Homo sapiens: one gene and its partner. The protein of the gene in region 1 purifies or fractionates together with the protein of each later gene. This does not show direct contact. Each region holds a gene or a part of one and is shown in the gene's direction. Other genes may lie near its edges.

Region 1 (3,823 bases):
TCAGAGAGAGCCTTCCTGTCCAGCTCCAGCTTTCAGCTTCAGGGACTTTGCTTTACCACAGCTGATTCTCAGAGACTATGCTGCTGACTAACACAATGATGATACAATGAAGAATCTCAACATTCAGATAGATAATATAGTGGAGTGGTCATGTCTCTTTCAGACCCGAGTTAAATGTCATTTTGACCATGCAATAATCATAACCTATCTAGTTAATAGGAGGCTCACCTCTTCAAAGGTTAGAAACCTGGATGATATGATGATGCTGCTGGGGAAAACTGAAAAAGAACTAGTTTCAACATATTGAGTTTTAAGGGGCAGATAGGAAATCTCTGTGAGGAAGTCCAGCAGTCAAATAAAAATATGGGCTAGAGTTTAGAAGATATCAGATTTGGAGAGTTTGGGGAATGATTTGCATAGAATATCTGGCTGGAAAGAATGAATGAGATCTTTGAAGCATATGTGAAAGCTACTAAAGGTGGATTCTTAGGATACACATGTGGGAGCTAGAAAGAAGAAGAAGGAAATGGAGAAATAACAGATAGGAGGGATTCCAGAAGGGCAGAGTTTCAGGAGAGTCAAGGAATAGAATATTTCAAGGAAGGGAGTGAGTCAAAAGTATCAAATGGTGCATAAGGGTTAAAGAGAATGAGAACTGAGAAAAAGTTCATCCCTTTAGTCCTTGGAGAAATGTAAGGCAGTAGTTATAGGCATAGAAAACATTATTTGTCTTCCAGGAATAACAGGTGATCTGGTTTGGATAGAACAAAGGTCATTTTGAAAAGTAGTTGAAAATAAGTAGGTTTGGCTGATGAGGTTGTACTCCAGGCAATGGTGGACTATTTTCTCATTCTCTTGCACAAAAAGTTATTATTAAGTCAGTGACCAATACTTCAGATTAATCTTGGGTGGGTATTAGAATAACTTGGTTGGTGGGGGTGGCTAGATGATGTGGAGAAAGGAGTTTACTGCCATGGTTTAGGTGAGAGGTAAGAAGGGAAGCAGCAGCAGGTAAGTACCACATCTCTAGAGTGCCCAACCATCTTGTTAATCTCTCACCAAACCCATCTTTCTTCTCAGGTGAGGATGCTCCCACTGTCACACAGCTGGAGTGCTGTGCCTCTGTGGAGTCCTCCATTCCAGCAGACTCTTCTGACCCAGCATTCCGTTTTTGGGGACTTCAAAAGTTTTAACAGGCCTTCTTCCAGACTCTCAGTAAAATAGAATCTTGTTTGCCATCTAGAACAAGAGATGAGTAATCGGAGTGGGCCAGTAGTACACTTATTTTTCAGGGGATATATATCGATATTTCTGCAACAGCTACCATGGAAGTAATTAGGCTCCAATGACACCATATGCCCACGCCAGTTTGTGAACTAAAGATATCATCCCTGGCATTTCCGTGCCATAACTTTGACTCTCAACCAGCCACTGTTAACTTCCCTCTCAGTCCTAGGTTGAAATCATCCTTGTTTTTAGATGTTATCTTGAAGCCTCTCTTAGTGCCAAATGCTAGACTAAGGTAACTTCTGGCTGGCCCTGATGAAGCTCTTACACCTCTTGTTCCTTGCCCATGTCAGTCCCTCTGGAGTCCCTGGGTGAGGAAGGTACTTACTACCAAACTCTCACATTCTGACCTGAGCTTCAGGTCATTCTTTACTGACTTTGCTGGTTCCCCTGTCCTCTGCCCTTGGTCGTATGATGCAGCTCTGTCTTTCATCCTTGGGGTGGGGAATAGGAGGAGGATGGCCCTTGTCTCTCTAGGCCTCTGGGTTTCAGATGGTCCTTTATCAGCCTGCACTTTTCTTTGTCCTTTCTAAGGTTTCCAGTCCTCAGGAGGCCTGCTTTCTTCCTGATCCTTCTTGTCATGTAGCATATTCTCCAGCCAGTTACAAACCCTACAGTTCAGCAGTGTTTCAGAGGAAAGACCTACCTTCAGCCTCTTAGGTGCTTCTTGGGCTGTCCTAGGAATTTCTTCATCAGGGCATGTGGGTGTTGGCTGCTGGGGGAATTGAGGGAAGAGGAATAAACTGATGAACAAAGGATAGCAGAGATGAGAAATGCAGGAGTAGATGGGGGCATCAGGAATAGCTGACTGGTAATATGGGGATGATAGTTGGGGGTAGGGAGTGGAAGGGGAGAGGAATGGGAATTGACCTTTTCCTTCATCTGACCATCTTTGTAATTCTCACCATGAACCTTCCCTATGACCCCTAAACCAATTGCCCCCTTCTGGTCTATAGGATGTGTCCAGGTTCCAGCAGGTTGAAAGACTTGAGAGTGGCCGGGGGAAATGTCCTTTTGAGCCAGCTCAGCGGTCAGCAGCTGTAATGGCTGGTGAGTGGGGAGAGACAAGAACCTGTAACTTCTTGCTAATTGCCTCCTTCCCCACCCTTGCTGTTAGAATTTCTGTGTTCTTTCTTACCTTGGAATGTCTATTATTCTCATGTCTCTTTTTAGCCTTTCCTGTTCTTCCCTGAGTGCCTGTGTAACCACCTGCTTTTCCCCACCTAGTATGATATCCCCAGGATTCTCTCCACAGAATGTGTCCTCTGCACCTCTAGTGTAATGTTTCCTCTCTTAACCTCATTTTCTTTTCTCATAGTGTTTTTATTCCTGTTAATAAGTGGAATATACTACAATGCATATTGTAATAAATTTGGAAAAAGTATAAAGAAGAACATGAAGAAAACTTCTAGAACAGCACTTTCCAAAAGAACTTTATGTAATGATGGAAATGTTCTACATCTGCACTGTCCAATACAGTAGCCACTAGCTATTGTGGCTATAGAGCCCTTGAAATGTGACTAGTGTGACTGAAGGAAGGAATTTTAAATAGTATTTAATTTTACGTAAATAGGCCTGTGTGTCTAGTGGTACCGTATTAGTGTAATTCTAAAATATCTCTACTTAGAAAATTATTGCTAATATTTTAGGATATTTCCTAATACCCTGTATTCGTCCATTTGTGTTGCTATAAAGAAATACCTGAGACAGGGTAATTTATAAAGAAAAGAAGTTTATTTGGCTCATGGTTCTGGATGCTGGACATGAAGCATAGTGCTAGTATCTCCCTCTGGTGAGGTCCTTAGGAAGCGTACAGTCATGGCAGAGGGTGAAGGGGAGCCAGTGTGTCACATAGTGAGAGAGGGGGCAAGAGAGAGAGGGAGGAGGTGCTTTTTTAAACAGATCTTTTGTGAACTCAGAGTGAGAGCTCACTCATTACTGCCAGGACAGCACCAAGCCATTCATGAAACATCTGCCTGCATGACCCAAACACCTCACACTAGGTCCACCTCCAACATTGGAGGTCACATATCAATGTGAGTTTTAGAGGGGACAAAACATCCAAGCCATATCATATCCTAAATGGATATTAATGTGTGTGCACACCCATGTACATTCATGCACATACATTTGCTGCCAGTCCTTTGTTGCTCAGGGGAGTCAGTAATGACTATTAAATAAATTCCTGCTAGTACTTCTTTTGAACAAGCTGCCTGTGATTCCTCAAGTGTGAAATGATTCTATCACAAACCTAAACCTCTTCTGGAGAATGACTGTCTAATTTATTAGCAGCCACACAGCAAATTTTTTTTGTGCCACATAGCCTGAATTTTAGGTCAGACCACCCAACATGCACCTTCCAAATTCAGTGAAAAGCCATTTTCTTGTGGTAGTGTAAAGCAGGTTAATGGAAATTTTATGAGCATGTGCACAGTATAAAACTTTTAAATGTCATGCTACATGGATGTAATTTTGAATTTTGTCATGTAATTTTATATCACAGGCATTTCTATATAATTTAAAAATTCATTGTAAA
Region 2 (3,823 bases), on another chromosome or scaffold:
AATGCTGATACCACAATAGTGTTTCTGATTTAATAAATCTGGGATTAGGTCCAGGGATCAGTAACTAGTATAAGCCCACCAGGTGATTCTAATGTATAGCTGATTAAGAATGACCGCTGTAATCTTTCAGTTTCCTCTTCTGCAAAATGAAGATAGTAATAACATTTGAGAACTAAATGATATAATAAATGAAAAATTTAAGTTGTGCCTGGAAAATGGCAAGAGCTCCACTGCTTTTAAATAGTATTATCCTACGGTGCTTGTGAAGATTTTTTAAAAGGATTTTATTTTCTCATATTCAGTTGACAGAATTGGAATTAAAATTACTGTAATTCTTAATCATAGATCACCAGACCATGCAGTTTAGTCAAGGCTGTGCTGTTTTTTCTCCCAGAAATCTGGAAAATACTATCAGTTCACTATTTTTATCAGTATACCATTCTGCAAAGATGAAATGTGATTGCAAAAGTGCTGCCAAAGTAATTGAATGAAGAAAATTACATATTTGAATCTTCTACTTCAAAAATGAAAAACTGAAGTTTCCCGTTGGCTTTTAAAATGTTATGTCTGTCTAACAGGAAAAGACAATCAGCATCAAGGTTCTTACAGTGAGGGGGCTCAGATGAATGGCATTCAGCCAGAAGAAATTGGTAGATTGCGAGAAGAGATAGAAGAATTAAAACGTAATCAGGAACTTTTACAAAGCCAGCTGACTGAAAAGGACTCTATGATTGAAAATATGGTAAAGTAAATGTTTAAGAAGTTAAAATAAGAGTTCAAGAGTGGTTCTCATTATCCTGCCTTTTTTTTTTTTCCTTGGATCTCTTAAGCCAGAATATCATATGTTAAGATTTTACAGGATGGGCCAGGCACAGTGGCTTACGCCTGTAATCCTAGCACTTTGGGAGGCTGAGGTGGGCGGATCACCTGAGGTCAGGAGTTCAAGACTAGCCTGGCCAATATGGCGAAACCCTGTCTCTACTAAAAATACAAAAATTAGCCGGGCATGGTGGCAGGCACCTGTAGTCCCAGCTACGCAGGAGGCTGAGGCAGGAGAATCTCTTAAACCCAGGAGGTAGAGGTTGCAGTGAGCCGAGATCACCCCACTTCACCTCATTGCCTGTGCGACAGAGGGAGACTTTCCATCTAAAAAAAAAAAAAAAAAGATTTTACAGGATGAGCTTTAGAGTCAAACTGTTTAAACTTCAATGCTTCCTGGCTCATTGAATTTAAGCAATTTAGTTAACCTCTTTAAACTTGTTTCCTGATCTATAAAATGGTAGTGGTAATGTCTAGTTCATTGTTGTGAGATTTAATTTACTCTTCTAATAGATGGAAATTATTTAATAAATGTTTGCTTTTATGCTCTTTCTCCATATGAACGCAGGTAAATGCTTAGATTTAATAAATTGCTCGGTAAAATAAAAATTTTATTTTTTTTTCTTTAGAGACAGAGTCTCGCTCTGTTAGCCCAGTCTGGAGCGCAGTGGCACAATCTCGGCTCACTGCAACCTCCACCTCCCAGGTTCTAGCAGTTCTCCTGCCTCAGCCTCCCGAGTAGCTGGGATTATAGGTGCACGCTGCCACGTCCGGCTAATTTTTTGTATTTTAGTAGAGATAGGGTTTCACCGTGTTGCCCAAGCTGATCTTGCATTCCTGAGCTCAAGCAATCCACTGGCCTTGGCCTCCCAAGGATTACAGGCATGAGCCACCGCACCCAGCCTACAAATGGATTTTTAGCCATGAAAAAGTTGTAGACAATATGTGCTGTGTTGGAATTTTATCTTGGGCATAAAAATTAAAAGGTTGGTGTGAATTTTTTGGTAAGCACATATGATATAGTTTATATGTGTACAGTTCTGTTTTTTTTTCTCATCTCTTTAGACTGAATATATTTTATAGTTTATTTTTGTGCTATTTGCAGAAATCTTCCCAAACATCTGGCACAAATGAACAGTCTTCAGCAATAGTTTCAGCTAGAGATTCTGAACAAGTTGCAGAATTAAAACAGGTAATTTTCCACTTTGATCCAATTCTACTTTGTCATGTTTTAATTATAATAGAATAACAGCCCTATAGTTTCACAAATCTAGAACTATATTAGCAGATGTAAGTAAAATTTAAGTTAAGACAGCCATTTGAAAATCCAGAAGCTGTTTCTATTTATATGGTAATAGTACTTTGCTTTTTATTGTGTTTTTATTTTTCAGAGGTATTCCTTTTAAAAAATCTCAGCATCTCACCCATGTTATTTATAGATTATCAGTGAACTAACAAGGAAAAATTTAAATTTATAACTTGCAAATATGAAAATGTAAAATCTTATGCCTAATTTTAATATACTATGATAATTGCTTGACTAAATGTATGGGGTTTTTAAACTGTTTTGTCTAGAAAATATAGAATTTTAGAATTGGAAAAGAGAAGAAAGGTAAACTTACCTATATCTCAATTAAATGACTCCAGCTAAAAAGCAAAATAAACTTTTTCTGTGGTAATTTATAACATCTAGAAAAGCAAGTTAAACTTTTTTCTACTTGCTTATAGTATTTATAAATTCCTGTTAAACTAGATCATACAGATTTACCTTTATCCAATGAAAAAATTTAAATGTATTGTTCAAGAAAAGAATCAAAAGAGAGAAATGAACTCTGTATACTTACAATTAAATAATGTAGCAATTGGAAGAAAACTCTAGAGTATATTATCCCTAAACAGGTTCTGGGGTTGTTTTTCTTTCCTCCTCTCTTTTCTTCTCTCTCTTTTCTTCTTTCCCTCCTTTCTTTCTTATTATAAAAGAAATGCATACTTTTTTTTTTTTAATCCAAGCAATACTAAAAAATGACCATCCTCACTAACCTAGGACTAACTGTCTTCCTTCTCTCTCCACTAAGCAACTGGCCCTAGTCCACTGACATGGCTGCTTTGAAAGAGAAATGACTGAACATAGAGAAATTTTGTCTTATTTTGATAATGTCCATGTACCTCAGAGTAGATTCTAAATATCTGACCTCTTTTTAAAAAAAGAATCACTTATCATTTGAGGATTTTCAGGTCTCCAATATTTGTTCACAATGTTTTATTTGTGTGGGAAGATTAATATGCTCTTTTGGTTTTATTAAGTGTACCTATACTAGAACTGTATTAAAATTAAAGGGAATTAAGTTACTAATATATAGCCTTAGTTTGTAAATTCTAAGTAAAAATAAGCCATTTAATTATCTTTCCCAGTGAAACTTTAATTAGATATTTTTATAAAAAGAGAATTGCCTTTTAGTTTTTTTACTTTCTCCAGTTTATTTACTTTTATAAACTTTAGATTGTTAAAATATATGTATTTTTTAAGTGACAGTTTTGTTTTTTATAATATATAGTAAAGTACTATATATAGAAAACTGTAACTCATTTTAATAACTAAACAAAATAAATTAGAAAAGCCACAAATGTACATGATAGAAATTTTAAAGAGAACCAAAAGAAAAGAGCCTTTTACTTGCCATTGTCCCACCACTTACTCAGTGTCTCCAGACATTACCAAATGTCCTCGGGGATGGGGGGATATGGGGAGAAATCACTCCTGCTGAGAGCCATTGTTATAATTGCCTTTCTTTTCCTGTACTTTTTTTGGGGGAGGAGAAGGTGAGAAGTTTGGAAATTCAACATTAATAAAAACTTTCAATTAATACCCTGGTTTTCATTATAGTACTACTGCTTTCATCTGTGTTTGGTGGTCCCTAGTCTAAAGATGTCCTGTTTTGCCCAGCCACATAATAAACCTCAAGTCTTCATCCAGGAAAGGAGGAACGGTTGCCTGATGCCTAAG

What was found.
Region 2: the proteins of SEMA4F (region 1) and USO1 purify together in Homo sapiens (affinity purification with mass spectrometry; 2 studies listed by BioGRID and IntAct, with this or other methods). This does not show direct contact.

The regions. Positions count from the first base shown.
Region 1 is NC_000002.12:74,660,489-74,664,311, forward strand, and holds part of SEMA4F (semaphorin-4F isoform 1 precursor), read left to right. Parts: intron 1-2,243; coding exon 2,244-2,337; intron 2,338-3,823. UniProt on the Homo sapiens protein: Probable cell surface receptor that regulates oligodendroglial precursor cell migration. Might also regulate differentiation of oligodendroglial precursor cells. Has growth cone collapse activity against retinal ganglion-cell axons.
Region 2 is NC_000004.12:75,804,562-75,808,384, forward strand, and holds part of USO1 (general vesicular transport factor p115), read left to right. Parts: intron 1-578; coding exon 579-742; intron 743-1,924; coding exon 1,925-2,011; intron 2,012-3,823. UniProt on the Homo sapiens protein: General vesicular transport factor required for intercisternal transport in the Golgi stack; it is required for transcytotic fusion and/or subsequent binding of the vesicles to the target membrane.